Linked DNA regions of Homo sapiens. The protein of the gene in region 6 interacts with the protein of the main gene of each other region in a pairwise test. Each region holds a gene or a part of one and is shown on either strand. Other genes may lie near its edges.

Region 1 (5,441 bases), on a different chromosome or scaffold from region 6:
GGGACAGGATATTTGGTAAGGCTTCTTAAACAGACCTATGATTCTGTAGGAGGGCACCCATGTAAAACGGGCCCTCTTAACCTCCAAATTTACCATGACCTGGGTAATAGACATATTTGGTGGGAGGATATCCCAGTTATCATAAAGCTAGTGCAACATGGCTTGTATATGAAACATACTAACTGCTTCATCTGGGGTACTTCACTTGGTATTTTAAAGGGAGAGTTGGGCAGTTCCCTTCTCAGGGCAAAGAGACCTTATAATGGCATTATCTGGCCCACTAGGCTGATTGCTTTTTCAAGAATAAACCCCCTTTGCGTTTGGATCATATATACTCAGTGACTGTTCAGTAATGAGTTCTGGGTCCTGCATTAATTCAAACAAGCTCTTAAATTCTGTAGCATTTAAAATTAAGAATTTTGTCCTTAAAGCAGTTATTTTCACAATCCACTAAAGTTTTTTTTAAAAAAAGAAGCTGAATGATACCAATCTACAAAATGGAACAATTCCTTTACATTACACCCTTTGGTTTTAAATAGTTACTTGGTTTTGCCCTTCCCCTATATTGACTATTTTCTTGGTAACCATAGGGCTCAGAGTTTTGTTGCCCTGGCTTGTTTTGTTTTCCTTTTTAAAAAAAAAAAATCCATTTAGTTTTATCTGTATAATTTTCTTCATTATAAAGCAACTCTTAGCTTATTATTATTATTATTATTATTATTATTATTTTTGAGACAGAGTCTTGCTCTGTCACCCAGGCTGGAGTGCAGTGGTGTGATCACAGCTCAATGCAACCTCCGCCTGCTGGGTTCAAGCAATTCTCCCATCTCAGCCTCCCGAGTAGCTGGGATTACAGGCACTCGCCACCATGCCCGGCTAATTTTTGTATTTTTTTTAGTAGGACAGGGTTTCACCATGTTGGCCAGGCTGGTCTCGAACTCCTGACCTTGTGATCCGCCTGCCTCAGTCTCCCAAAGTGCTGGGATTACAGGCGTGAGCCACTTAGTTTCTTTCTTTCTTTTTTTTTTTTTGCGATGAATTTTTTTTTTTGAGACGGAGTTTTGCTCTTGTTGCCCAGGCTGGAGTGCAATGGCACAATCCCGGCTCACTGCAACCTCCGCCTCCCGGGTTCAAGCAATTCTCCCGTCTCAGCCTCCCAAGTAGCTGGGATTACAGGTGCATACCACCATACCCAGCTAATTTTTTTTGTATTGTTAGTAGAGATGGGGTTTCATCACATTGGTCAGGCTGGTCTCGAACTCCTGACCTCAGGTGATCCATCCGCCCTGGCCTCCCAAAGTGCTGGGATTACAGGCGTGAGCCACTGTACCCAGCCCAAGCCACTTAGTTTCTTAACAAAAAAGAAACTTACATTTTTTTGAGAGTTGACATCCGTGTGTTTATTTATTTATTTATTTTCTTTGAGACGGAGTCTTGCTCTATCCTCCAGGGTGGAGTGCATTGGCACAATCTCAGCTCACTGCAACCTCTGCTTTCCGGGTTCAAGGGATTCTCCTGCCTCAGCCTCCCAAGTAGCTGTGATTACAGGAACACGCCACCACGCCCAGCTAATTTTGTATTTTTGTACAGATGGGGTTTTGCCACGTTGACCAGGCTGGTCCCGAACTCCTGAGTTCAGGTGATCCACCCGTCTCAGCCTCCCAAAGTGCTGGGATTATAGGCTTGTGCCACTGCACCCCAGCCAATAAAATTTTAATAAAAGCATATTTTATGTTTCTACTATCTTAACTTCTAGTAACCCAAATTTCCAGTGGGGGAAAAAAAAACTTGAGGGTTTAAACATGACTTTAAGATTTTTAAATCACTGGAGAGTTTTACCAAGGTTATGTAAATTAAAAGGCATCTGAGCTAGCTTTTACCAATGTGATAAGCACTTACATTTTTTAAATTACTTGATTAGAGCTCTTTCATGTAGTTTGGCAGTAAAGTATCACTTCTATATGACACATATAAAGATACAGATATAACAGGCATGCAGAATAAAAGCCATGTTCAAAAGATACTTTATTTGCCTGTTTTCAAAAACAATTTTTCTCCCTTACTTTAGATAATTAGTAAAAGTTACAGGACACAACAAAAGGTGAAGGAGAGAGCCATCTTTCAAGGCCTTTTCAAAAGAGAAAGAGGGCCGGGTGCAGTGACTCACACCTGATTTTATTGTCTCAACTCTTTTATCTTTTTCTTCTCCTTTTAAAAAAATTCCTTCACTGAAGCTGGGTGCGGTGGCTCACACCTGTAATCCTAGCACTTTGGGAGGCTGTGGTGGGAGGATCGCTTGAGCTCAGGAGTTCGAGACCAGCCTGGGCAACACAGTGAGACCTCCTCTCCACAAATGATTTTTAAAAATTAGCTGGGCATGTATGTTGGCACGTGCCTGTACTCCCATCTGCTTGACAGGCTCAGGTGGGAGGATGGCTTAAGTGCAGCAGGTTGAGGCTGTAGTGAACTGCGACCATGCCACTGCACTGTAGCGTGGGTAAGAGAACAAGACCCTGTCTCCCCCCTCAATTTTTAAAATTAATTTAAAAAATAAATAAATAAAATTACTTCAGTGAGAAGGAAGAAATCTCAACTCTTATTGCCTGGTTAGTCCTGGGCAAGTCCAATCCAGGGAGGGCCTAGCTGGTGTCTCAAATTAATAGGTCTATGATTAGCAGCCCCCCACGTATTGGTGGGATACTACAGGAAACACACACATAAACACCATCCTTAACTGTCTATGAAAACAAGAGTCTTTCGCTATCTTAGCCTATTTTTGAAAGTAAATATTTTGGGGGAATGTGAGGGTTATATCATCTGGTATTCTGAACCTAGAAAATTACCTCTGAGACTTTCCATGAAGAAGGCTTATTGGCTTAAGTCGCTAAGTAAATTGGCTTTATTTAAAAAACATTTTAGACCAGGCACAGTGGCTTATACCTGTAATCCCAGCACTTTGGGAGGCCGAGGCTGGTGGATCACCTGAGATTGGGAGCTTGAGAACAGCCTGACCAACATGGAAAAACCCCATGTCTACTAAAAATACAAAATTAGCTGGGCATGGTGGCACATGCCTGTAATCCCAGCTACTCAGGAGGCTGAGGTTGTGGTGAGCCGAGACTGAGCCATTGCACTCCAGCCTAGGCAACAAGAGCAAAACTCCATCTCAAAAAAAAAAAAAAAAAAAACTTTATTTATTTATTTAAATAAAACATTGATTGATTGATTGATTGGAGATGGAGTCTCACTCTGTCACCTAGGCTGGGGTGCGGTGGCACTATCTCAGCTCACTGCAACCTCTGCCTCCCAGTTCAAGCAATTCTCCTGCCTCAACCTCCCAGGTAGCTGGGATTGCAGGCACACACCACCACACCCGGCTAATATTTTGTATGTTAGTAGAGACGGGGTTTCACTGTATTGCCCAGGCTGGTCTCGAACTCCTGAGTTCAGGCAATCCACACGCCTTGGCCTCCCAAAGTGCTAGGATTACAGCCACCGTACCTGGCCTGAGGAAAAAAAAAAAAAACAGCTATCTTTCTAGTACCCATAAAAAGATACAGAAAGAACACAGCCTTAGAAACTCCCTTGGCAAGATTTTTAAAAGACAGAAATCAGATTCAAAACACAAGTTAAAATTCTTTGTACACTCAAACTGCTTGTTTTGGATCCCCTGAAGGGCCTGCAAAAAGGCACTATGATCTGTGGTCTAGTGGCTGGCAATAAACTGGTTAGCTGCTGCAGCGTGGGTTCGATTCCTTGTAAGGTAACAGTCCATTGCAGATGCAAGTCTTTTAACTCAGAGGAAAAAAAAGAAACACTTATAAAAATTAGTTTGAGGCCAGGCACGATGGCTCACGCCTGTAATCCCAGCACTGTGGGAGGCCAAAGCGGGCGGATGGCTTGAGGCCAGAAGTTCGAGATCAGCCTAACTAACGTGGTGAAACTGTCTCCACTAAAATACAAAAATTAGCCGTGTGTGATGGCACACGCCTGTGATCCCAGCTACTCAGGAGGTTGAGGTATGAGAATCGCTTAATCTGGAGGCAGAGGTTGCAGTGAGTAGAGATCATGCTAAAGCACTCCAGCCTGGGCGATAGAGCAAGACTCTGTTTCAAAAAAAAGAAAAAGTTTTGTTTTGAATTTCCATTTGTTGACTCCTGACTTTTGGGGGTACTCATTCGTTATTGGTACCATATACACAATAAACACATGTATAGACATATACATACATATATAGACACATGTATCGATACAAAAGCCAAAGACTAGAGAGTTTAATTCAAAAGAGAGAAGAGTTTTAAACCTGACATGAACCCATTAGTGACTTTTGGGGCTCTATAAGGAAAACGAGAGGCCCCAAAAGAGAGGGTCAGTGGCACCTTTTTTTTTTTTTTTTTTTGTATTTTTAGTAGAGATGGGGTTTCACCACGTTGGCCAGGCTGATTTTAAACTTCTGACCTCAGGTAATCCACCTGCTTCAGCTTCCCAAAGTGCTGGGATTATAGGCGTGAGCCACCGCGCCCAACCAGTGGCACCTTTTTTTTGTCTTCCTCAAGGGATCTCAGGGTTGTCAGAAGTCCCATCTAGACCCCTTTAAGGGTTATCAAAGGTGGCAAAAGGAAGAAGTAGAAATACATGGAACAACCAGTTTTGGAGAAGCCAATTTGGAGAGATTTTAAGCTTCCCCAAAAGGCTAATGAAATTTTACATTTTCAAGGCAGGGTGCAGTAGTTCATGCCTATAGTCCCAGCACTTTGGGAGGCTGAGGGAAAATGTACCACTTGAGCCCAGGAGTTCAAGATCAGCCTGTGCAACATGGCGAAACCCCATCTCTACAAAAAATACAAAAATTAGCCGGGCGTGGTGGTGTGCACCTATAATCCCAGCTACTCAGAAGGCTGAGGTGGAATACTTGAGCCCGGGAGGTCAAGGTTGCAGTAAGGTGACATCTCACCATTGCACTCCAGCCTGGGCAACAGAGTGAGACCCTGTCTCAAAAAAAAAAAAAAAAAAAAAAAAGACAAAGAAAAAAGAAATTTTACATTTTTCTCAGCAAAGATCATGCCAACAAGAAAGGAAGTGAACACAAGGACTAAACATAATTTTTTTTTAAAGGGGGTTTCAGTGAACTGAAAAAATTTCCCAGGGCATGAGATCCAAAAGAGAAAAAGCAGAAAGCCTTTAAAAAATAAAAAAATTGGCCAGGCACGGTAGCTCATGCCTGTAATCCCAGCACTTTGGGAGGCCGAGGCAGCTGGATCACGAGTTCAGGAGATCGAGACCATCCTGGCCAACATGGTGAAAACCCGTCTCTACTAAAAATACAAAAAATTAGCCGGGCGTGGTGGCGTGCACCTGTAATCCCAGCTACTCAGGAGGCTGAGGCAGGAGAATCGCTTGAACCCAGGAGATGGAGGTTGCAGTGAGCCAAGATTGCACCA
Region 2 (5,441 bases), about 140 Mb from region 6:
CCATACCCTGACACCCCAAGTCCTCAGTATCACCCATGAAGATCTGACATCTCCTCAGTGACTTTCCTCAAAATGTTTTCTGACCTAGAAAGCCTTCCCTACTTTTTTTTCCAACCTAAATATGCATATTTTTGAAGGCTGGGTTTAAATCCCATCTATCTCAAAAGCTCTCTTAGAAAATTCAAAAAGGCATAAATATACATATGAACATTTATGTAAAACTTATATAAACTGCAAGAATATACATCAAGTACTATCAGTAGTTATCTCTGGAGAATCAGACCTAGAAAACATTATACTTACTAAGCCCAGTATTTCTACAAACTCAATTTTTTTTTTACCAACATCTATATTCAGAAGAAAAATTAACAGAAATTAACACAATGATCTTTCCATTCCTTAAATTACTACAGTATTACTGATTGATCCCTGGATGACACTTTAATTTTTAAATAGTATCTTATATTTAAATCTTACATCCCTAATTGAAACCACTCATTCTATCCTATTGTTATCCCCTATCCCCCACCCTCCTTAGCTCAAAATCTCTGTAATACCTGGTTGATCCTGCCAGTAGGAAAAAAAGAAAAATAAAAAAATCTTAAAAAAAAAAAAAAAACCTCTGTGAGTCACACTGGGGTGCAGAACTATGCTTCAGTAATCTTGAGTCTATATTTTCTGATCCTGTACCCGTCAATATATCAATGACTCTGGGCCCATTTAATCCAATGACAGATAGCATCACATGTGACACATACGTCCATCAGCATAGGTGGCCATTAGATAAGATTCAGGTTATGCATAATTCCTTGTTACTTTATCCTTTTCTCTCCTATTCAAGAAAACCTACTAAAATACAAATGAGATAGATGCTATTAAAGGGATAGGATTAAATCTTTCTATAATATTTTTAAATAATTACAAATTCTGATACTTTATTGTTGGTAAATTATGGCAAAACTCACAAGTTATTTATGGTTAGTGTGGTGTCTCTACTCTGTCATCTACCTTTAAGGAGCTTTGCATAGAGTAAAATCTACATTTGCCATGGCCTCTGCATGACTGTGAGGGGAAACAAAACAGGATTTTTCTGATCCCTTCCGCAGCTTAAAAGAAAATTCTCCTTTTAGCAAGCGATTATGGAAGTCTGGATTTTCTTACTATGGGAAATTTTTCTACCAGCTAAGAGTGGCTAAGACCAGAGGTTTATAAGGTGGGGGGGAAAAGAGAACTAAATTATGCACCTACTACTGCTAGTATGGTACTAAATACTGACTGTTCTACCACCAAAGGCCTGGACAGAAATGGGCACCCTTTCCCTACTATACTACACTACACTGCACTGCACTGCACTACACTACACTACGACTATATGTTGGTAGGAAATAAGTTCTGGGCATCCCAAATTGGAATCCTGTGTAAAAACGTGACCGTGTTCTATAGTGGCAATGATGGGGCATTTTTTAACAGGTAATAGACTGACCCAGAGTCTCAAGCACATTTCAATTGTGCTTGAGACTCTGGGTCAGTCTATTACCTATTAATGGAAACCGTTTCAGGGTACCATCAACCTAGAATTGAGGTTTGGAAACAAAATCTATTACTATGTTTAATAATTATTTGCTTAATTGTAATCATTCAAGGTTTTTGATTATTTGCTTATAAGACAGAGATGAAGGTTTGAGCTAACACACAGGACTGGACTGCCAAATCAGACTCATGTGAAACAGTGTTCCTACCTAGCATTAAGCTCTACTAAATGTTACAAAGATAGAGACCATCAAATAATTCAAATGAAGCAGAGAGAGGTCTGGGACATCAAGGGCCACTGGCAACCCAGTTATTTATTTCCTTGCTGTGTGCCTACATGACCTTCTCCAATGAGCTGTGCCTTATAGATACTGGGTTCTCTTTACTATAGGTAATCCTTACCCAGGGACACACTGCTAAGGGCATTTCAGAGTTAATGTTTCTTCTTCCTAACAAACATCAGTACTCAATTTATCCTAAGTCCTGTTGACAAGGAGATTAGACTGGGCCACGTGCCTTCTTTTTCTCCCCTCCTGTCCCCCAAGGAAGTGAATGGATTGGCAGGCCAGCTGCTTTCACCTCTTCCTCCTAGGGTTACTTAAGAACTTGGTGACATAACTTAGCTTATTGTTAATTCCCCCATTGTCTAGTTCTCTTGCATCAGAACTAAATCAAATCATTTCAACAAAACAGGTGCATCACAGAATCTCAGAATTAGAATAGAACCTTAAAGATTATTTAGTGCAAGCTCCTACCTAAAGCTTCTGCTGATTGTATCTACTTTTATATCTATCTGACTAAAGCTATCTTATGGTAGAATAGCCACTTTAAAAGGCCTTTCCATTGTGATAATCTTCCAATCACTGAGGATGTCTTTCTTCCATAAAATAGAAGTCTCCCCTACCTCTCTTTACCACCCCATTGGTCCTAGTCCCAACATCAGAATCAATCCAGAATAAGTCTACTCCCCCTTCCACTTAGTAGTCCTTTCACATTTCCAGGGACATTTCAAGGCCATCATGTCCTTATAGTTCTTAGCTTTTCTAGGCTGACATCTCCAGGTCCTTCAATTGTTTGTTATAAGACAATAGCTACCTAATCTAATATCTCCTCTCTACAGTTAACTAGCAGCTCTCTTCCAGATACATGCAAGTTTAGGGACTTCAGATGATGATGGTCTTGGATGTGGTCTGACTGGGCAAACTACGTGTGAATTGGATACCAGGCCTCCTCTAATAGAATCTAAATTTGAAAAAGCTTTCTGTTTTAGCAGATGTGATAAATTGGCATAACTGAGATGCAATCATCTACCACCTCCAGGTCATTCTTTATCCTTATGCATCGTTGAACCTAAATGCAAAACTTAACATTTATCACTATTAAGTTCCACCCATTTGTTTCAGTTTATAGTTAGGATGAAGCCTTTCTAAAAATGTAATAACATTGTCCAATATGTTATTAGTTCTCCTTCCTAACTTTGTTTCAGTTATCTCATAAGCTTGCTTTAACATTTTTATTATGGCAAAATATATATGACATAAAATTTACCCTTTTGACAACTTTTAAGTGTACAATTCAGTGGCATTAAGTACATTCATTTTGTTATACAACCATCACCACCATCCATCTCCAGAACTTTCCATATTCCCAAATGGAAACTCTGTACCATTAAACAGTAATTCCCCATTATCCCTTCTGCCCAGCCAGGATCACACCACTGCACTCCAGCCTGGTGACAGAGCAAGACTCCATCTCAAAAAAAAAAGAAAATAAATAATAATAATATGGTGGGCTTGGAAATTGATGCATATTGAATGATTTTCAAGTTTAAATGTTTTCCAAATATATTCTAACTCATTATCTAAAGGCATGGTTTAATTGGAGAAAGAAGTGATTCACAAGGAACACATACACAAAAAGTGAAGGCTATCAATGTAGTCAGAAAGGGTGTACAAAGGATGGTAGTTTGTCCTTAAAAATTGAGGATTAAAGCATAAATGTGTTCATTTCTCTTAGAATAAGAGATCAGCTTGTCAGGTTTATTTGATAATTAGTATCCTGCTCCAGGGGTGAAAGATGAGTATCAGGAAAAAAGGCTGTAGGATTTGTACCTCTCTATATAGACAGAAGAGGATTCATTAAGCTCTAAATTACTTTGCCAGAGAATTTCAAAACGTCAGTAAATATAGTAGAAAGATACAAAAATAGCAATCAAGACATTATATAACCTATAATACCTTAAATTCCAAAGAATCTTACTTTTCAACTATTTCTTCAGTAAGGATACATTTTAAAACTGCAGGGAACTTGCTTCTATTCATCACTTTAAGTTTTACTTTGGTTCTAATAACAAAATCATTTAAGAAAAAAAGCTTACTGCAAACAGCTTAAATGGTTACATAAGTATTAAGTCAAAGTGCTTTCCAAATACAAGTTCTCATTATTGCATAAGTGATAAGAATTTCATGATCATTTACCCCCCCAAAATTATAATTATTATTATTTTTGTTAGCTTTACTTGGAATAACAAAATGCACAAAATGACCTGGGAATTCACTGCATAGAAAAAAACCTTCTTATAGTCAATGAGTAACTACTGTAAGATTGGTAAATAACATAGGATCCTTATAGCATCTGTTAACATTCATCATTTCATCTAACTTTTCCTATTTTGTTTCCCTATGAATAGATTCACTTTAAAAGACAAATTTTAAACTATAACAACAGAACATAGACATATCAAAAAAGCAACCATCTTTATGAAAAAAATTGCAGTTGCAATATCTACCTTGAGCTTGTTGGTATATTTATGTTGAAAAACAATTGATTCTAGAGAAACCTAACAAACATACAAGGAATATAAAGTTGCTAGTTTACATATGTATATGTAGAAATTTTAGATATATAATTTAATATGCTTTACTGCCTGAGATCTGTTGGAAGAATCCTCTATTAACCTTGGTCTTGGAATTCTGAAAAAGTCTGAGCAAGATTTCTCCACTGCTCCAACCTACTTAAATGTAATTATGTATATGTAATTGCACATGGAATTAAACAGAAAAGAAATATTTTCGCTGGCTCATACTCTTTGCTGTTAAATCATAAATGCATCTAGAAATACAGACAAATATCTATAGCTACAACAATCCTGAAGGTTTTAAATGGAAATTCAAAGAATTAGGGTCATTTGTCTGTCTCAAAATCTATGAATACAAACAGACACACCAACACCAACACAGACACACATAAAGGTATTATTTTAGTTAATACAGAAGATAGCATACCACAAAAGCAATCCCTGAATGCATCTGGAGATGGTCTTTAAAAACTAAGAATTGTATGTTTAGATTTATGTTCACCTTTACATCACTATTCCCAATCTTGTCTGCTAGTTAGGCTACAGAAAATCCTGGAACTCACCAGTACAAGGTAGTATGCATACAGGGACGCACAATGATGCATTATAAAAAATTTGTCACCAATCACTTTCCAATACAAAATTATAATGGACAAATCTGTAAGAAAGAAAAGTGAGTAAGGTATTACATAAGAAGAAAGTTGCACTGTTTTTCAAATGTATTGAACTCTTTCTCCTGCCAACTCATCACTGTCCACTCTGAGCCCACAGCACTTTGTTCATCCCTCAGTTAGTCTGATTATCTACTTTACCATAAAATCTCTGCTCCTATATGCCTGTCTCATCCACACTCCTGTGGCTCCTCTAAGACAAGGGCCAGGTTGTGAGCATCTTTAAACCCTCAGAATCTAGCACAAGGCCTGGCATGTAGGTTGGTGCAAAAGTAACTGTGATTTTTGCCATTATTTTTAATCACAAAAACTGCAATTACTTTTGTACCAACCTAATCATATGTAATATAATATTTGTTGAAAGCATAAATGAATAACTTGTT
Region 3 (5,441 bases), on a different chromosome or scaffold from region 6:
ATTAGCCGGGCATGTTGGCACACACCTGTGGTCCCAGCTACACTGGAGGCTGAGGCAAAAGGATCGCTTGAACCCAAGAGGTTGAGGCTGCAGTGAGCCATCCTCACACCACTGCCCTCCAGACTGGGCAACAGAGCAAGACCCTGTCTCAAAAATACATACATACATATAGATATGTGTGTATGTATACACACACACACATATATGTATAGTGAAAATGTAAAATACAGAAAAACATACATGGACCTAAGTCTTTTTTAAAAAAAAATTATCTTTAATTAATTATTTGAGAAATGGGGTCTTGCTGTGTTGCCCAGGCTGGAGTGCAGTGGCTATTCAGAGGCTCACTCATTGTGCGCATGGTGCTTATGGTGCCTGGAATAGCTGGCACTACAGGCATGTGTTCTGTGCCAGCTCAAGTCTTCAATTTTGCTTCAGATCTTTAACTTTTTAATTGTGAAATATAACTGTATGCAGAAAACTGCATAAAACACAAAGGTACTGAATAACAAATAATTATAAAGTGACATCTGGGTCAATAACTAGACCACAGTCAGACCCCTGAAGCTCCCTCTGTGTCTTGTCTAGTCACATCCCCCTCCCCTTGCTCAAGAGGTTTTCAGTAATCACATCCTTTTTTTCTCTATGGTTTTACCTCCTAGTTTTGGAATCCATAAGCAGTATATTTCAGCTTTGCATGTTTTTGAACTCTGTTCAAATGGAATTTGTACAAAATAATATGCTGTGCATATTATTTCTTGCTTCTTTTACTTTATATCATTATGTAAGATTCATCCATGTTATTGCAGCTTATTTCTTTTTTGCTTGTTTATTTGTTTGTTTTTGTTTTTTTGAGACAGTCTCACTCTGTCACCTAGGCTAGAGTGCAGTGGCGCGATCTCGGCTCACTACACCTCCACCTCCTGGGTTCAAACGATTCTCCTGCCTCCGCCTCCCAGGTAGCTGGGACCATAGGTGCACGCCACCAGGCCTGGCTAATTTTTGTATTTTTTAGTAGAGACAGGGTTTTGCCATGTTGGTCAGGCTGGCCTCAAACTCCTGACTTCAGGTGAGCCACCCGCCTCATACTGCAGCTTATTTCTTCATTGCTGAATAATATTCCATTATATGAGTATACCCCCAGTTGTTTACCCATTTTATTGTCATCTCAAGTTTTTGCCCATTGCAAATAACATTGCTGTGAGTAGTCTTTTATGTATATCCTAGTACAACTGGCACAAGTTCCTTCAGGTATATGCTGAAGAAGTAGAATTGCTAGATAATAAGGCACGCATACTTTAGGCTTTTGCCAAACCATTTTTCAAAGTGGTTGTACTAACTTATACTCCCACTAGCTAGTAGAAAGTCAACACTGGTTCACATGATTCCCAACATTTGGTATTATCAGCCTTTTACATTTTTGCCAATCTAGTGGCTATATTGTGGCATATATTTGTGGTTTTAATTTGCACTTCCCTGATTACTAGTAAAGTTAAATGCCTTTTTAAATGCTTACTGGCCTTTAGGGTTTCTGCTTTTGGGAAGTGTCTGTTCAAATCTTTGACATATTTTTCCATAGGGGCTATCTGTCATTTTTGTAAGATTTGTAGGAGTTCTTTATATATGCTAGATATGAGTTTATAGGATTACAAAGGAAATCAATTATATTGACATAATAGTTATCAAATATAAAAATGCAAGTATGTGGGCTTATTTATTTATACAATAAATAAGATCTGGTGCAGGTGTAATAACAACTATAATATCAAAGTGATTATAAGCATTGACATTATTTCAAGATATCTGCAACAAAAATATCTGGTTTCCACTTGTGACAACGCCACAGGTACTATTAACATTATGTACTGTGGGCCAGGCGTGGTGGCTCACACCTGTAATCCCAGCACTTTGGGAGGTCAAGGTGGGCAGATCACGAGGTCAGGAAGTCGAGACCATCCTGGCTAACACGGTGAAACCCCATCTCTACTAAAAATACAAAAAATTAGCCGGGCGCGGTGGTGGGCGCCTGTAGTCCCAGCTACTCGGGAGGCTGAGGCAGGAAAATGGTGTGAACCCAGGAGGCGGAGCTTGCAGTGAGCCGAGATCGTGCCACTGCACTCCAGCCTGGGTGACAGAGTGAGACTCCCTCTCAAAAAAAAAAAAAAGAAAAGAAAAAAAAAACAAAAAAAAATTATGTACTGCGATGTGTTGCTTACATTCATAATTGGAGGAAGGGCCAAATTTTAGTTAGGTGTAATTTTTTTCCCATTGAAATTCATGGACCTCTGAATTTTTCCAAGAATCCTTTGTGAACCATAGGGTAAGAATGTTACTTACAGAATATCACTATCTAGTAGAGAGTCTGAGCTATTCTTGATTGTGTGTGTGTGTGTGTGTGTGTGTGTGTTTTAATAGAGACAGGGTTTGACCCTATTGTCCCGGCTGGTCTTGAACTCCTGGGCTCAAGTGATCCTCCTGCCTTGGCCTCCCAAAATGCTCCTTTGTGTTTTAATATAAAAATACTTGGTGATTTTTTATTGGGATTGCATTGACTATATAGATTAACTTGGAAAAAAAAAGAGACATCTTTACAATACTGAGTCTTCCAAACATTGAACATTTATATATTTCTATTTAGATCTTTCATTTTCTCAATATTCTGCACAGATTTAAATACTTATTATTTGTTAGACATTCCTAGGTACTTGATATTTTTGATGCTGTTGTAAATGATGCCTTTAACATTTATTTCACTTTGTTTGTTGCTGACATATAGAAATAAAACTGGCTGGGCACGGTGGCTCACACCTGTAATCCCAGCACTTCGGGAGGCCAAGGCAGGGGGATCACGAGGTCAGGAGATTGAGACCGTCCTGGCTAACATGGTGAAACTCCATCTCTACTAAAAATACAAAAAGTTAGTCGGGCATGGTGGCGGGCGCCTGTAGTCCCAGCTACTCAGGAGGCTGAGGCAGGAGAATGGCGTGAACCTGGGAGGCGGAGCTTGCAATGAGCCCAGATTGTGCCACTGCACTCCAGCCTGGGCAATACAGTGAGACACCGTCTCAAAAAAAAAAAAAAAAAAGAAATAAAATTGATGCCTTTAACATTTATTTCACTTTGTTGCTGATATATAGAAATAAAATTGATTGTGAATTCAGTAAACTTGCTAAATTTATTCTATACACATAGTCATATAATTTGTGAGTAATGAGTTTTGTTTCTTTCTTTCCAAGTCTTATACCTTTTATTTATCCTTATTGCTTTACTGAAGGCTTCCAGTACATTGTTAAATAGACAAAACATCTTAATTCTTGACTTTTCTGGATTCTAAAAAGAAAGCTTTTTCTACCCTTCACCATTAAATTTGATGTTTGGTATAGGTTTTTTATAGTTAATTACATTTTATCAGATTAAGAACGTTGTCTCTTATTTCAAATTTGCCAATTATTCTTTTGATCATAGATGGATGTTGAATTTTATCAACTTTTTTTTTTGGAGACGAAGTGTCACTGTCACCGAGGCTGGAGTGCAGTGATGCGATCTCAGCTCACTGCAACCTCTGCCTCCTGGGTTCAAGCGATTCTCCTGCCTCAGCCTCCCAAGTATCTGGGACTACAGGCGCATGCCACCACGCCCGGCTAATTTTTTGTATTTTTAGTAGAGACGGGGTTTCACCGTGTTAGCCAGGTCAATTTCCTGACCGTGTGATCCGCCCGCCTCAGCCTCCCAAAGTGCTAGGATTACAGGTGTGAGCCACTGCGCCCGGCTGAATTTTATCAACTTTTTTTTGCATCCATTGAGATGATCATATGATTTTTTTCTCCTTTAACCTGTTAATGTAGTAAATTGCATTGATTGAATTTTCTAATATTAAACCAGCCTTAGAACAGTGATACTCAACTTGACTAGTCATCAGAATCACACAAATAAAAAGTCTTTTTAAAAGTCTAGATCAGCCAGGCGCGGTAACACCCGTATTCCTGTTTCTCTTTTTGTTTCATATTTTATTAAAATAAAAGAAGTAAAATAATACTGATAAAGCTGATATCCCCTCTCTTTCTCGTTTCAGTTTCATATCCTTCTTTTCTCTTTGGAAAGCTTCCCCATCCTAGTAATTTGTGTATTTCTTTATTTTGTTTTTAAGCTCAAGTTTTGTTTTTGTTTTTGTTTTTGTTTTTTTGTAGAGATGGGGTTTGGCCATATTGCCCAGGTTGGTCTCGAACTCCTGAACTTAAGTGATCCACCCACCTTGGGCCTCCCAAAATGCTAGGATTATAGGCGTGAGCCACCATGTCCAGCCTTAAGCTTAATTACTTTTAAAAAATAGGTTATACATGTACATGGCACAGAATTCAAAAGGAACAAGTTAAGTCCTACTTCTGCATCTAGCTACCCATTTTTCCTCTGCAGAAGTAACCACCAACACTGGTTTTTGTGTCCTTTTGGAAATATCCAACATCTGTCCAGATGTAGATGTGCTCTCAGTCTCTCCTCTACCGCCCAACCAGTACCATGCTCTATAGACTGCTCTCCACTCAACTGAGTCCATGTAACATGACAACATTGGACATCATTCCATTTCAATGCACATCCTGTCATGCACCCCAGAAGGAGATTTTGGTTAACAATGGACCACATGTGATGGTGTTCCCTTAAGATTATAATACCACATTTTTACTGTAGCCTTTCAATGTTTAGATATGTTTAGATACACTGATACTCACCGTTGTGTTACAGTTGCCTGCAGTATTCAGTATAGCAACATGCTGTACAGGTTTGCAGCCTAGAAGCCATAGGTTATACTGTATCAGCTAGGTGTGCAGTAGGCTATACCATCCAGGTTTGTGTAAGTACACTCTGATGTTCACACAAAGATGACATTGCCTGATGACACATTTCACAGAAGATATCCTCATTGTTAAGCAACATGTGACTATATCTCAACCCTGAATAGTGTTCTATTATAATGGTGTACATTATTTTACTTGGTTGGTCTCCTATTGATGGATATGGATTCAAGCTGTTTCTACTTTTTTGCTATTGCAAAACAGTGCTGCAATGAATAATCTATATTATCTTTGTGAACATGTGAAGTAGAAGTACTAGTATAAAATTTTGGTAGATAATGCCAAAGTGATCTCCACAAGTGTTTACTAATTTTTATTCCTACCAACAAATATAAAAGTGCCAGTTTATCCCTACACTCTTTATAGTACGGTATTTTCTTTTCTTTTTTTTTTTTTTTTTGAGATAGAGTTTTGTTCTGTCACCCAGACTGGAGTGCAATGGCGATCTCGGCTCACTGCAACATCCGCCTCCTGGATTCAAGCAATTCTCCTGCCTCAGCCTCCCAAGAAGCTGGGATTACAGGCGCCCACCACCACACCTAGCTAATGTTTGTAGTTTTTTAGTAGAGACGGGTTTTCACCATGTTGGCC
Region 4 (6,220 bases), on a different chromosome or scaffold from region 6:
CTTCAAGAAGGTTGATCGTTCTGTCGCTGGATGTTGTAGGTGTCCTACGTGAAGGCAATCGACATCTGGATGGCTGTGTGTCTGCTCTTTGTGTTCGCTGCCTTGCTGGAGTATGCTGCCATAAATTTTGTTTCTCGTCAGCATAAAGAATTCATACGACTTCGAAGAAGGCAGAGGCGCCAACGCTTGGTGAGTACAACTAGGGAGCGGCCCACTGCCTTTCTCCTTTGGACTCCTTCCTCCCTACTCCGCCTCCCCACAAACCAAGACCCACCCCAGGGCTGCAAGGACTAGATAGGCAATCAGAAACCCTGGATTCATAAGGGCGCAGTGGCTCACGCCTGTAATCCCAGCACTTTGGGAGGCCGAGGTGGGCGGATCACCTGTGGTCGGGAGTTCGAGACCTGCCTGATCAACATGGAGAAGCCCTGTCTCTACTAAAAATACAAAATTAGCCGGGCGTGGTAGCGCATGCCTGTAATCCCAGCTACTTGTGAGGCTGAGGCAGGAGAATCGCTTGAACCCAGGAGGCGGAGTTTGCGGTGAGCCGAGATTGAGCCATTGCACTCCAGCCTGGTCAACAAGAGCAAAACTCCTTCTCAAAAAAAAAAAAGAAAGAAAGAAAGAAAGAAACCTGGATTCTAGTACTAAGCTGGTCACTGTTAAGCTAAGTACTTTAATCTCTTTGATTACTTTAATCTCTTTGATTACTTTAATCTCTTTGATTTTAATCTCTTTGATTACTTTAATCTCTTTGATTCTGTAAGTCAGTATAGTAGATTGATTAAGGGCATGGGCACACTGCTTGACATAGAATAAGCACTGAAGATATGTTAGCTAGTAGTAGAACCTTACCAAGTTAGCTAATAAGAGATTGCTTTGCCAGGCACGGGGGCTCACGCCTGTAATCCCAGCACTTTGGGAGGCCAAGGCGGGTGGATCACAAGGTTAGGAGTTCGAGACCAGCCTGACCAACATGGTGAAACCCTGTCTCTACTAAAAATACAAAAATTAGCCGGTGTGGTGGTGGGCACCTGTAATCCCAGCTACTCAGGAGGCTGAGGCAGGAGAATCACTTGAAGCTGGCAGTGAGCTGAGATCACACCACTGCACTCCAGCCTGGGCAACAGAGTGAGACTCCATCTCAAAAAATAAGTAAATAAATAAATAAATAAAAAGAGATTGCTTTGAGTAGTAATTGCTCCCCCACAACCGGGAGGAAGGTAGCCCAGGTTGTCATACACTAATTGGTGGTTAAGAATTCAACAATCAGGCATTGGTGTCTTTCTAGGGGAGCATTATAAGAGGACCCCCATAACTAAGTTGGAATTGAGAAACCACCACTTGCCTGTTCTGACTGTTGGATTTCTTCTTCTTGATCTTCATTGGGTGCATTAGAGTTGTTGGGCTTGAGTTGTTGTTCTCCCTCACTCTTTTCTGTTAACCTCATTTCTTCTACAGTAAAGTGATCACCTGGGGAAATATAAAAGAAATCTTGTCGTCATGACAACAGAGGCAGTTTACCCCCAATTGCCCAGACAATAGGTGCTAGGTAAGTTGTCATGACAACAGAGGTGCCTGGGCCAGCCTCACAGAAGCAAGTGTCCAATTATGAGCAAAGCTGAAAGGCTTAACTGAGCTACATACTGGTTGCTTAACCATTAGAGACACAGAGTTCTGGTCTGTCTTCAGCTCTGACTCCATGTTTTCTGTCTAATCTGGAGGCTCTAAAGCCAGAGAGGCAAGAGCATAATGACCTCTGGGGGATGGGAAACAATGCTGTGAACCCACTCTTAAAATCCTGACTCTAGCTTGTCTGGGCCACACTAGCACAAGGAATGTTCTCTCCTCAACACACCACCTCCCACCTCAGCTGCTCCAGGGGCACCCCTACCGTATGTCCGCACTAAAAATATCTCACAAACTACCTCCTTGGTTTCATGTCCCTTGCTAAGGTTCCTTTCTGCTGAGGGCAGGGCTCCTGTCTCATCTAGTGGTTTGAATTTATCAGTCCCTACCCTTTAGTCCTTTAGTTGGTCCCTGGGCAGTACGCCCTCTAGTGGACTAATCCACAACTACATGTCCTCGAGTAGGACTCATTCTTCAAGAAACCTAAAAGCATTTCCTAACCCATACCAAGGGTTAGAAAAATATGTGTATACACCTAGCAGAAGGGCAAGAAAAAAGGACACTCCATTTTCTTTTTTCTTTTTTTTTTTTTTTTTGAGACGGAGTCTCGCTCTGTCGCCCAGGCTGTAGTGCAGTGGCGTGATCTGGGCTCACTGCAAGCTCCGCCTCCCGGGTTCACGCCATTCTCCTGCGTCAGCCTCCTGAGTAGCTGGGACTACAGGCGCCCGCCACCACGCCCGGCTAATTTTCTGTATTTTTAGTAGAGACAGGGTTTCACCGTGTTAGCCAGGATGGTCTCGATATCCTGACCTCGTGATCCGCCCGCCTCGGCCTCGCAAAGTGCTGAGATTACAGGCGTGAGCCCCCGCGCCCGGCCAGGACACTCCATTTTCTAAGCTAACTGTCCCCACCCCCTCTTTAGCTGTGTCGAACAAATCTGCCTGCAGGTACCAAGATCTTATCTTTATAGGAGTTTTGATCTTGGTGCCTTCTCAATGCCTACCTTGGAAAAAAAAAAGCAGACTGCCAACCAATCCAGAGTCCTTTCACCAGCTAAGTTGCCTGTATGGATGTCCCAGCAACAAAAAGGCTGCCATTGTTACTGTAGAGCTATTCCAGGTTGACTCTAGTCCCACCTCCTTTCCTGAACTCCTGCAACCCGCAACTGCCTGCAGCCTGTCCCCTCCTGCTCATATATATAGGCTGATCCTGAGCTCATAATGGAGTCTGTCATGACCAGTGCTCAATTATTACAAAGTTACAACAGCAGCCTGGGCCTTGCTTAGGACTCTGGGGCCTGCCTAAAAGTGGGCTGAGGCTTTTTTTAACGTGAATTATTATTATTATTAACGTGAATAAAACTGAAAATCAAACCCGTGCCATTCGTCATGTCCTTTTTTGAGTCTTCTAAAGTCACTGTTATCCCAGGACCTGTAGCAGGTATTTTGGAGGCACCAAGCAGGCTGAAAAAATTGTTGGAGAGTTCATCCATTTCTAGAACCTCTGTCCGGGCCCTACTGCTCCAGCTAGGGAAAAAGAATTCTTCAGTCTGAGAGGGCAGGGAGAAAATCCATGTGATCTCCAGGGAACCCTTAGCCAAGAGTCAGTTAGGAGTGTTCTAGGAACCAGCCAGCCATTCACATCTTTTCTTCTCAACTCTCTCCTCAACCAACAACTCCATAGCATGGTGGCCCCCTTTCATGTCACTGCCTAAAGTGGTTTACTTTTTACCCATGCAATCCTACACTGTCTTCCCGGCTAGTCCATAAGCTTCCCCAGGAAAGGGAAGCTCTTTTTCATCTCCTCAGCAGGCCTTAGCACCAGGCTCTGGACACAGCAGTCATGTAACCCAGCTCACCAACTTTTACAGGCTGATTGGAGAGGACTGTCTTTCAAACTGGACAGAGCAAAAGCTTTGCCATGATCAATAGAATAACTTGATAACTGGAAGAAATTTCAAAATACTGCCCAGTCCTCTCAAGGGCTTGGTCCCAGAACCCTGCCCACCTCTCTTCATCCTCCAGCACCCTCTTCATTCCCCATTCTCTAATCCCTTTTTTTCTAGCCCCTCTCACTTCAATACAAATCACTCTTTCCCATCTCCACACTTTACCTCCTACACTGTGCATTCCCTCCTTAGCGTGGTTTTGAGATATCTTCCCTCTCTAGCTTCTCAGTCCTTCTCCCCTATAGATAGCCAGGGGAAAAAAAGTTCTATTTTAATAGGCATGTAAGCCACAAAGTGGTATTTAAGGCTCCAATGTTCCTTTCCAGCACACACACACACACACACACACCCCACACACAAACACCCCTCAGAATTTGGCCTAAATAGAGAATACCCAAATGCAGGATGCCCCACCCCTGGATTTCAAGCCATTCATCTTTGCTCCTCCAGCTACAACAGGTGCAGTATGTTAAAGTCACAAAAAGCCAAGACCAGCTTACTCTGTTGGCCATATTTTCTCTCCTGTGTGAAATGGCTTTTTCCAGCCTGGGAAATGTGTCCAAATAACTCCCTTTAGATTTATTATGATTGGAGAAAAGGGAAAATAATTAGATCTATAGAAACAGAAATAGCAGTTGGATCCAACTTTCCCCCTCAGAGCTTTTTTGCCAACATCCTTTGCTTACATCCTCTAGCCAGGGTAGGGCTCAGGGGATCAGGGTGAGTACTGGGCAACAGGGTCATCTGAGGGACCCTGAACTGGAAATCAAAGGAGAAAACCATTTTACTTACTCCCCTCATTTTAAAATTATTGCAAAATATTTTGTTTGCCTCTGGTTCTTCACCTCGAAAATGGGTCCAGCACAACCTCCTTTGTCAGAATAGTGTAAAAATGAATTACAGAGTACATGTGAGGTGAACCAAGGCCTGTCTTTATGATGACAGGTCAGTTTCTAGTCATGTCATTATCAAGGGTTACTAGGACCTACAACACCAACATCTCATACACAAAGCCACTTTTCTTTTTTTTTTTCTTTTTCTTTTTTTTTTTTTGAGATGGAGTCTCGCTCTGTCACCCAGGCTAGAGTGCAATAGCGCAATCTCTGCTCACTGCAACCTCCGCCTCGTGGGTTCAAGCGATTCTCCTGCCTCAGCCTACTGAGTAGCTGGGATTACAGGTGCCCGCCACCACGCCTGACTAATTTTTGTATTTTTAGTAGAGAAGAGGTTTCACCATATTGGTCAGGCTGGTCTCGAACTCCTGACTTCGTGATCCGCCAGCTTCGGCCTCTCAAAGTGTTGGGATTACAGGTGTGAGCCACCGTGCCTGGCAAAGCCACTTTTCAGTGTGTTGCCATAGCTGCAGAGGTCCCACGATAAAGACCCTGTGGTGTCCCTCTAACTGAGAGAGACAGAGTGTTTAAAATCTACTTTATCCACATTTTGTATATATCTATGTCATACCTATACAATATACACATATTTTTTTCTTATAACTTATAATAAATACCTCAGGTAGCCACAGGATGACCAGCTCTTCCTGATTTGCCTTGCACTTCCCCAGTTTCAGCCCTGAAAGACCCAAGTCTTAGGAACACCTTCCGTTCTGGACAAACCGAGATGACAGTTTGCATCGTCCTCCAAGAGGCCATTGCACTTCAGGTGATTTCTTAGATACCTGAAACTTTGACTCTAAAACCATGAATACTTTAAGAAATTACCACCATCTTTGAAGGAAGCATTTCTCAACCCTGTCCTTTAGAAGTAAATAAAATTAGGCTTGTTAGGGTTGCATATAAAATAAGACTAAATAGGCTGTGAATGGGGGCCTGAGGGCCTCATATAAGTAAAGCTCTCTCTATTGACACTCAGAGGTTTTGGTTCTCTCTCTCTCTCTCTCTCTCTCTCTCTCGCTCTCTCTTGCTCTCTTTCTCTCTCAACTTTATCTTTCTGTCCCTACTTCCTGGCTCCTAGCTGCGTTTAGCTACTAAAGGTTGTCAGCTAACTATTGGAAAATGGACTTTTGGCAGTCTGCCGCATTACTTAGTGCTTATATAAAATTTACCCCTCACTGGGCATGTGTTTATCCTAATTTGGATAACTCATTGGGTTATTTAAAACTTTTGGAATTTTCAGTTTTAAGTTGAGATAAATTTTAAAAGATACGATTCAAAAGGGGAATGAATTCTGAAGCTTTTGAAAGTCATTAAAGTCAAGTTTACTAAGACTGAATATCTCAACTTCACTATCTAATAGTTTTGTTGTTTTGTTTATTACCAGTCAGAGATAACTTGACATTGAGATGTCCTCTCACAGTGGCCGGCACTTCACTGGATTTTAGATAACTCTAAATGATGTTTTGCATTTTACATGGGTAGCTTAGAGCCTATCTGCCATGGAATCATGACATACACTATATATAGCACGTAGAGCTGCTTAGCATACATCTATCTCATGAGTAGTGTTGTGACCATAAAAAGCATGCAATGGGCCTGTGTACCCAAGGCACCTTGTCTGCATAACATTCCCTATGAGATATTGATGGGTGGTCTGTTCTCTATCCCTCTGCCTTTGAGCTTTGACCTCAAATTCTGCCGTTTCTTCCTTGTAATTCCAGGAGGAAGATATCATCCAAGAAAGTCG
Region 5 (3,898 bases), on a different chromosome or scaffold from region 6:
GGAGAGCAGTGGCACGATCTCAGCTCACTGCAACCTCCGCCTCCCAGGTTCAAGGGATTCTCCTGCCTCAGCCTCCCGAGTAGCTGGGATTACAGGTATGTGCCACCATGCCCAGCTAATTTTTTATACTTTTAGTAGAGACGGGATTTCACCATGTTGGTCAGACTGGTCTTGAACTCCTGACCTCAGGTGATCCTCCCGCCTCAGCCTCCCAAAGTGCTGAGATTACAGGCGTGACAGCCATCATGCCCAGCCATAATAATATTACTTTAACGGGTTGTGGTAGCAGCTGATGGTCTTTGCCTTAGTGGTTAAGTGTGCTGGCCAAGAATCAACAGGCCTGAATTCAAACATCACTTTGTTTCCTAAGTGATGTTTGAATTAAGCAAATGTTTAATTTTTCGTAATGAATTAAGAGTTTGCCTTAAGCCAACTCTCCGAAATTCAGTGTTCTCATCTGTAAAATGGGTATAATAATGGTGCCTATCTCTTAAGCAGTGATCATGAAGAGGGTGGAGGATGAATGTAAACTGCTTAGCACCTCACCTGTGAGAGCAAGCATTCTGAAGGTGCTAGCTTTCATTATTACTTTGGCATCTCTGGACTTACGCGTTTTCTTGGGCTGCCTCTTCGGCTTTTGAGACCTTTCTGTAGCAATATATCATCTCGATGAGCAGCCACAAGGTGAGGAAGACCAGAAGGATGTACATCATGATTTCTGAGACCACAGAGGTGAAGTCCTCTCCAGCTGAAAGAAAGAGAATGAGGTTCAGAATATGCAAATCCAGCAAACCTAGAGCCGTCATTGGAGCCATATTTTTAAGTACAGCTTAAATAAAGACTGAGTAAAGAAACTCAAGAAGATGTCAAAGGTATTCCAAATCCTGACTCTCCCGCCCATTGGCTTTCTCACTGACTGTCATCAGCTGCTCAGGAGCCAGGGAAGAGGGAGTGGGATGCCTGGAAGAAGTAGCCGAGCAGTGGAAGGAATCCTGGCCTCAAAGTGAGATATCTAGAGCTGGCTGTCCATTTTGCTATTTACAGGTGTGTAAACAACCATTTCCCTTACTTGAGACTCAGTTTCTTAATTTGTAGGTTGAGGATAATAACACCAGTCAGGGGTTTGTGAATATTACATTATCTAATGTATTTCAGAACATCTTGTGAGATTAAAAGTCTACACAGATGTAAGGAACATGCCTTATTTCAACTGCCTCTGTCTTTTGAGCTGCCGGTGGTGGAGGGTGGTATTCCTGGGGAGAGAGCGTTGGAAAACTCATTCAGGGCCAACAAAGACAGCCTCCATGAGATATGCGCATGTTCTCTACAAGTCTGGGTTAGAAACAAGACCTTCCAGGTCATCCAAAACCAAACATAAATATTGGAGGATTTAGTGTATCAACCGCATTGTCCCCAGGGCTGTACTTTTGAAACACAGTTAGGATCCTGCCATTTCCCTGCTGAAAACTCTTCAATGCTCCACACTCCCCTTAGGATGAAGCCCCAACTCTGTTCACGTGACATGCAAGGGCCTTCACAATCCGGGCTTTCTCACCTCATTTCCATTTGGTTGGCCAGAAAAACTTCTGCTACACACTGTGGTATGTTAGAATCTGTGAACTTTTCTTCCTCTTCCCTCTTCCTGAATTGTGTCTTTCACCCACGGCTAGTTCTGTGCTAATATCCTCTCCTGCTTTGCAGTCTCGCAGTAGTTCTAGATTCCTGTGAGGTCCCCTCCTTTGTGAAACCATCCCCAACTTCTCATGCGGAGCTATTCACAACCTTCTCCGTGCACTTTTCTTTTCTCTTTTTTTTTTGAGATGGAGCTTTGCTCTTGTTGCCCAGGTTGCAGTGCAGTGGCATGATCTCGGCTCACTGCAATCTCCGCCTCCCAGGTTCAAGCGATTCTCCTGCCTCAGTCTCCCAAGTAGCTGACATTACAGGCACCCACCACCATGCCCAGCTAATTTTTTATACTTTTAGTAGAGACGGAGTTTCACCATGTTGGCCAGGCTGGTCTCGAACTCCTCACCTCAGGTGATCCTCCTGCCCTGGCCTCCCAACGTGCTGGGATTACAGGCGTGAGCCACCGCGTCTGGCCTCCATGCACTTTTCTCATCCATCTGTTATAAGAGTTGTATTGTGCTTATCTTTCTTTTCTGTGGACTGTGTGCTTATTGAGAACATATTTATTTCTGGATTATCTGCCTGCTGTATAAATCTTAGAATATTTAAAGTGCTCAATAAGTACTTATTGAATGAGTGAAAATAAATATTATCTTATTTGTTTCATGATCAACAAAAAGGACCATTAAAACATACTACATGGCAGATATCCTGATATATCTACTCCTTGCTAGTGGGAGAAATGTTGTAGCCACCTCTCCCCTTGCCAGCTCTCAACAGCAAGTCAGATTTATGATCTGCAGTTATCCATTGGATCTAAGTCATCCCCAAGTCCTTGGTTGTTAAGAGCACAGCACAGCCTGCCATAACTTTCAGCCCAGAGAGCAGTCCGAAGGCTCCAGGATCACCCAGGTTTCCAACTGGAGCTAGAGGTCATAGATGCAGCGTGAGGCACATGAGAATGCCGTACAGCTCAAACATCTCACCGCCTTGCTACCACCTCGTGCATTATTTATGATTTGTTTGGCTTAAAGCATGCTCTCTCTTTCAAAATGCAGTAGCCCACAAATGGCAATACAGGAAGCTGTCCTCAGTATTTTTAGTTACCTCTAGGTGAAGAGGCCTCAGGTTTCTGCCTTAGGGCCAGGAGGTGACAGCCAAAGCCAGAATAAACCCAACTTGAACAAAGAGAACCAGGGAGACCTTGTGGGACCACAGGAATGGAGGAGATGTGGGGTTGATGGGCAGGTGTCATGGTGGGGTGGGTGCGTAGCTCTGAGCAAGATGAGGGCAGGGAGTATCTGATGTCACAGAGGCAAAAAAGAAAAAGTGGCAGGGGGTTGGGGTGGTGGGGGTGGGGAAAGAAACAGTGGAAAGCAAGCCCTCCAGACAGGCGAACAATCTGGATTTTCACCCTGCTTCCAGCGCGAATTTGCTGCACGTCCCTGAGCAAGCCCCTTGCTCTTGCAGAGAACTCTGTTCTCCCAGCCACAAAAAGAGGGGCACCAGAGCTACACCCTCCAATCACCTGGGGAGTCATCAACTTGCATATGACCTCACTCACCCCTGCCGATCTCACACCTGCAAGGGTGCTGCAGAGGTGTCTACATCTGGAGGACGCCAATGTGGGCGATTCTGATGTCTGCCCTTTATCCAGAGGCCCTGGATTAAATAAATGATATCCACGCTTCCTTCACACCCGACCATCCACGAGGCTCTGTGGCTCTGATAATAAACTTGTTTTTCCTTCTGTTTTTACCCGAGGCTTGCTCTGGTACCTGGCAGACGAACTAGCTCAGCCTTGCCACACTTCCCACCAGCTATGCACGAGGGTGTCTGGAGGCAAAAGCCCGAGAGAGCAGAGGTGGAGACGGCTGAGCACTGTGCTAAGGTCTGGCGGGCACCAACCAAAAGTTCCAGATGGTGACCAGGAGAGGGCGCCAGGGCCCCACCCCCCAGAGGAAAGGCGTGTAACAAACGGGGGATAAAGGAACTTCAGAACAGGGGAGTACCTCAGAGAGCCCCCCGCCAACCCCTTCATTTCACACCAGAGGAGCGGGGCTCCGAGCAGGGAAGTGACTCATCAGGTCTGGATTCAGGAGCCCTGAGAGTCCCTCTGCACTTTCAGAATTGACCTACCTTCCATTTTAGTCATATCGTCTGATCCGTTATGTCTCTTTCTCCTTTGTTCATTCACTCTGAGGACTGAATCTCCGCTTCATTATTTTTATCACAACGACATGATAAAAAATGAATAAACCTGTGGCCTGGA
Region 6 (4,511 bases):
GGAATGGTGCTCCATGAAGACTTACATGGCAGCAGTATGGGTTGCAGGCTGGTTTGGAGGTGTTAGAACCTTTAGGCAGGAGAGGGTGAGGTGTGGGTGAAAAGAGCTGAGGAGCATTTCAAGAGAAACGTTATCAGAAAAGGACTCTGCTTCAACAGGAGAGTGCAGGTGACACCGAATTCCACATCAGACCTGTGGACACTTGAGGTAATGGCAGGACCGTCCTGGTAGGAGGCAGGGGACCTGGCAGAGAGGGGAAGCTGGAGGTATGAGGCCTGGAAGGAAAGTACACAGTTACGTGCACAGTGAAGGGAAGGAAGAGGGCTGAGGACAGAATCCTGGCACAGGCAAAGAAGTCAGTGAAGAAAGATCTAATGGGAAGGGACTGGGTGGCCTGTTTCAGCAGGAGCCAAAAGCCAGAGGTTTCTGGAGCAGAGCTAAGGGAGGAGGAGGACTCAGAAAACAAGGAGGAATTGGCTTCCTTGTGTATTTTTTTGTTTTTGAGACAGGATCTTGTTCTGTCACCCAGGCTGGAGTGCAGTGGCACAATCACAGCTCACTGCAGCCTTAACTTCATGGGCTCAAGCAATCATCCTACCTCAGCTTCCTGAGTAGTTGGGAGTACAGGTGTACGCCACCATGCCCAGCTATTGTTTTTTTTTTTTTTCCTGTAAAGATGGGGTCTCACTATGTTGCCCAGGCTGGTCTTGATCTCCTGGGCTCAAGCCATCTTCCTGACTCGGCCTCCCAAAGTGCTGGGATTACAGAAATGAGCCACTGTGCCCTGCTCTCCTTGTGAATTTTAGGAGCATAGGTTCAAGAGACTCTGGGTGAAAGTATGTTTTACAAAGAGGAAAGGCAGTGAAGAAACAGGGGAAGCAGGCTTACATCAACTGTTCTGGAATGAAGAGCTGTGCATAGGCAGAGGGGAGAGAGCTGCTATACAGGAGAGAGGATCAATGAAGCAGCGATATGTCTGAAGACCCAAAAAGGTGGATTAGCTGGGCATGAAGAGAGATTGAGGCAACAGGAGTGGAGGATGGCATGTTAGGAGAGGCAGAGAAGCTTTACAGCCGCTACTTGCAAGGAGGATGTAACAGCGAGGAGGGAGAGACCAAAGCGCAGCCTCAACTCTCCCTGACGGGGGTCTGTGTCCCTCTGCTCCAGTGTTTTCCTCACTCTCTGGCCCAGCCTTCCAGGATCCTGCCTAAGGTCCTGCTTCCTAACACAGAGGCTGCCATCCACAGTCTGGCTGTGACTGGAGGGAGGGGAACACCCACAGGTCAGAAACAGCCCCAGAGAGGAAGCTGAGCACAACATGAGATAGGAAGGAGAGAAGGAGGAAAGAATGAGGAAGACCGAAGACGAACTGACGTGAAGAGGGAAGCTTAAGGAACTTGTGAAGGTCTCAATTCTCAGCAAAGTCAGAGCAGACAAAGGGGACGACCAGAACAGAACAATCGAGGTATGGCCCTCTGATGGGAGGGTCACTGGAGGTGACTATGAAGGCACAGGAGCAGCATGACATCTTCTGAGGTTCTGTGCACTGGCAGAGGTGGCTGCTCAGGAAACACTGCGAGGCTCTCTAGGAGACAGGTGGCAAGACTCACCCAAACAGCCTTAGCAAAGCACGTATGATGGAAGGCAAAAGGCTGATGGATGTCAAGGTACTAACAGAGAAGAGCACAACACAGCCTATAGGTTCCAGGTGTGGTTAAAAAAGAGGCAAGGCAGGTCAGAAGTAGCGAAAATGAGAGGTCAAGAGACTAAGAGGTGAGAAAGGCAGCAAAAACCTGGCATGGGGGAAGGGAGGGTGGAGAATGGTTGGGAAGGGTAGGAGACAGTTTTAGAGTCTGCAATCCTAGTAGAATGGGTGGGAGTGGAGGTGTTAGAAAAATTGTGAGGATAGGACCCTAGAAGCAACAAAAACATGGATGTTGATGTCCCAGAGGGTGACAAAAGGAACTAAAGTGAAGACCCCTGGGGGCCATGTAGTAAAGTCCTTGAGGAAGATGAGGGTGACCTAGAGGCAGTTAGACGCTAGAGAATGGGTTATGTAAGGGCACCGACTTCTTTTACAATGACATCTGTCTTATTTGAGAAGGCTACATGTCTGAATGCATGAACACTACATGCTTTCAGTACCTCTTCAGAAGTCCTGAGATTTAAAGATGGCATAATCACTTCCAACATCCCATTCCATACTCTGGAAGAAGTAGACCATGATGCTTTCCAGCAGTAAGCCACTCAACACGGCCAAGAAGGAGAGCTTACGGTTGATGTTTAGGGTCACTGGAAAGGAGAAGGCAGCCAATAAGTTCAGAATTAATGAAACGATATTGACATGTAAATTTTCGGGTAGTATGAATTGTTTTGTAAAGCTGTTTTTGGAAAAATCAATGTTTGTTCTTATTAATCTATGCTGTTACCTTCTCCCACTTTTCCATCTACACATTTTTAGAGAACCAAAGCCTCTACTTACAACAAAACACTGAGCCCCTTCTCCTCATATCAAGCGGCAGATTCCCGTGAATATCAAAGGAGAAAACAAAAAATTCTAACGCTATAAGAGAATAACGACAACAACAACAAAATGATACTTTCAGTGTCACAGTTTGCAAGATGACAAGCATTCTGATAAAAAGTATCAGGTAATAAGTTCATTTAAAATAGGACTTCGGCCAGGCACAGCGGCTCATGCTTGTTCCCAGCACTTTGGGATGCCAAGGTGGACAGACTGCTCGAGCCCAGGAGTTCAAGACCAGGCTGGCAACATGTCGAAACCCTGTCTCTACAAAAATTTAGCAGGGTGTGGTGGCATATACCTGTGGCCAGCTTTTCAGGAGGCTGAGTTGGGAGGATCACTTGACCTCAGGAAGTAGAGGCTGTAGTGAGTTCTGATCACATCACTGCACTCTAGCCTGGGTGACCAAGTGACACCCTATCTCAAAAAAATAAATAAAATAAAAATAAATAAAATAGCACTATGTAAAATATATGGGAAAAATGAAGACACACAGGGCTGCTCTTCCTGATATAGTAGAAATTGTCCTGGATTGAGAGGCAGATACTCAGCATTCTCTCCTGACTTGATAACTGCCCAGCCATGTAACGTCGGACAAGCCACTTAACCCTCAGAGCCCCAGGAGCTCATTCATAAAATCAAATAATGGCAGTTCTACTAACCTCACAGGACAGAGATGATGCATATGAGAGCATTTTGAAAACTATAAAGTACTATATGGTTAAATGTAACAAACACTGAGTACCTGCTATGTATAAGGTGCTATAGAAGTGTTAGGTATTATTACTATGCGATGAAGAATTCCAGTGTTCAACAGGTTATATAAAAACTGCACCCCAGAAACAAGGCTTTAAGCTTTTTATGGGTTGAAAACTGAGAAGGCAGAATAAACACATAAACATACCTCTAATTGCCTGAAAATTTGATGTAAGAACAAATACTTTAATGAGTTTGAGGCACACAGATGTGTAGTCATGTTCCCAAATGACAGCTGGAATCAGCAAGAGTTTTCCGTAGCTAGATAATAATAATGCTTTCAGCAGCAAAATGAAGTTGGGCTTTTTTTTTGCCGTCATGGGCCGTTCTACCCACAGGAAGGTAAAAATGCCAATAAAATAGGCAGTTTGTTCTAAAGAAGAAATGGAAAATAAAAGTATGAATGTCCCCATCCAAAATATATCCCCTTAAAAACAAATAAACCACCATTCTAAAATACAGCTTATCAGCTGACTTCATAAGAAATACTTTCTCAAGATCACAATCTCTTTTTCTTCTTCTTTTTGTTTGTGTGTTGTTTTTTTTTTTTAAATAAACCCCTGGCTTTTGTATTAGATCCTGCTGGTATAATTTCAGAAACATTATCCACTGAAGAAAAAGTAACTCCATTAGAATTGTAATCATCAACTTTCTGAAGTTCCTTGAAGGAAGTAAGATTCTGCTTAAACATCTTCAGTGTAAGAGATCTCCAAAGAATAAAACAGGAGAATGCAGGCTTTTCAGTCTGAAAGATGGGACCTATCGTAAGAATGGGATAACACAGGAAGACATTTTTCTCTGTGCATTCTTCCACTATTTAAGTGCCTATTATCCACATGATTTTTTAATATTGTTAACTGAGACTTCCTTTACTCATTTTAACAACATTTTAAAATGCAATTCCTTACACTTCCAGAAAGTATTCATAGGACAGAGTCCAGATTAACAGCAGCAATAGTTCCACTGTGTCCTATGGTCAGAACACAGCACAATCTGTTCAGCTTCTATTAACTAGGAATTTAACATCTCTTTTAACTGTGCTGTAATTTTTATTAGGATTGTTAGTCATCCGATTACCCAACTGTATCCATTCTGAGTGGCCAGTCCCTTATTTTATTTTTTCCCATATAAGCTATGTTATTAGCAGTTTAGGTTTCTGCAGAATCAGGTTTCTCTGGACACATGTATTATATTACAGCAGAAACAACTATCCTCTTTTTTAAACTTAATA

Evidence for each region.
Region 1: the proteins of ARV1 (region 6) and TMX2 interact in binary tests that used the Homo sapiens proteins (3 or more experiments, as listed by UniProt).
Region 2: the proteins of ARV1 (region 6) and TLCD4 interact in binary tests that used the Homo sapiens proteins (3 or more experiments, as listed by UniProt).
Region 3: the proteins of ARV1 (region 6) and SMO interact in a two-hybrid assay, tested with the Homo sapiens proteins (one large-scale study listed by BioGRID and IntAct).
Region 4: the proteins of ARV1 (region 6) and TMEM31 interact in a two-hybrid assay, tested with the Homo sapiens proteins (one large-scale study listed by BioGRID).
Region 5: the proteins of ARV1 (region 6) and SCN3B interact in binary tests that used the Homo sapiens proteins (3 or more experiments, as listed by UniProt).

Annotation. Positions count from the first base shown.
Region 1 is NC_000011.10:57,719,093-57,724,533, reverse strand, and holds part of TMX2 (thioredoxin-related transmembrane protein 2 isoform 1 precursor), read right to left. Parts: intron 1-5,441.
Region 2 is NC_000001.11:95,150,929-95,156,369, reverse strand, and holds part of TLCD4 (TLC domain-containing protein 4), read right to left. Parts: intron 5,046-5,441; coding exon 4,951-5,045; intron 1-4,950. Other genes in the region: TLCD4-RWDD3 (TMEM56-RWDD3 protein), read right to left, coding at 4,951-5,045.
Region 3 is NC_000007.14:129,193,950-129,199,390, forward strand, and holds part of SMO (protein smoothened precursor), read left to right. Parts: intron 1-5,441. UniProt on the Homo sapiens protein: G protein-coupled receptor which associates with the patched protein (PTCH) to transduce hedgehog protein signaling. Binding of sonic hedgehog (SHH) to its receptor patched prevents inhibition of smoothened (SMO) by patched.
Region 4 is NC_000023.11:103,707,489-103,713,708, reverse strand, and holds the start of TMEM31 (transmembrane protein 31), read right to left. Parts: upstream 2,801-6,220; 5' UTR 2,633-2,800; intron 1,474-2,632; 5' UTR 1,451-1,473; coding exon 1,349-1,450; intron 190-1,348; exon of another isoform or gene 116-189; coding exon 1-115.
Region 5 is NC_000011.10:123,637,577-123,641,474, forward strand, and holds part of SCN3B (sodium channel regulatory subunit beta-3 precursor), read right to left. Parts: exon of another isoform or gene 3,391-3,898; intron 1,045-3,390; exon of another isoform or gene 963-1,044; intron 749-962; coding exon 610-748; intron 1-609. UniProt on the Homo sapiens protein: Regulatory subunit of multiple voltage-gated sodium (Nav) channels directly mediating the depolarization of excitable membranes.
Region 6 is NC_000001.11:230,994,902-230,999,412, reverse strand, and holds part of ARV1 (protein ARV1), read right to left. Parts: intron 3,654-4,511; coding exon 3,429-3,653; intron 2,293-3,428; coding exon 2,150-2,292; 3' UTR 2,146-2,149; intron 1-2,145. UniProt on the Homo sapiens protein: Plays a role as a mediator in the endoplasmic reticulum (ER) cholesterol and bile acid homeostasis. Participates in sterol transport out of the ER and distribution into plasma membranes.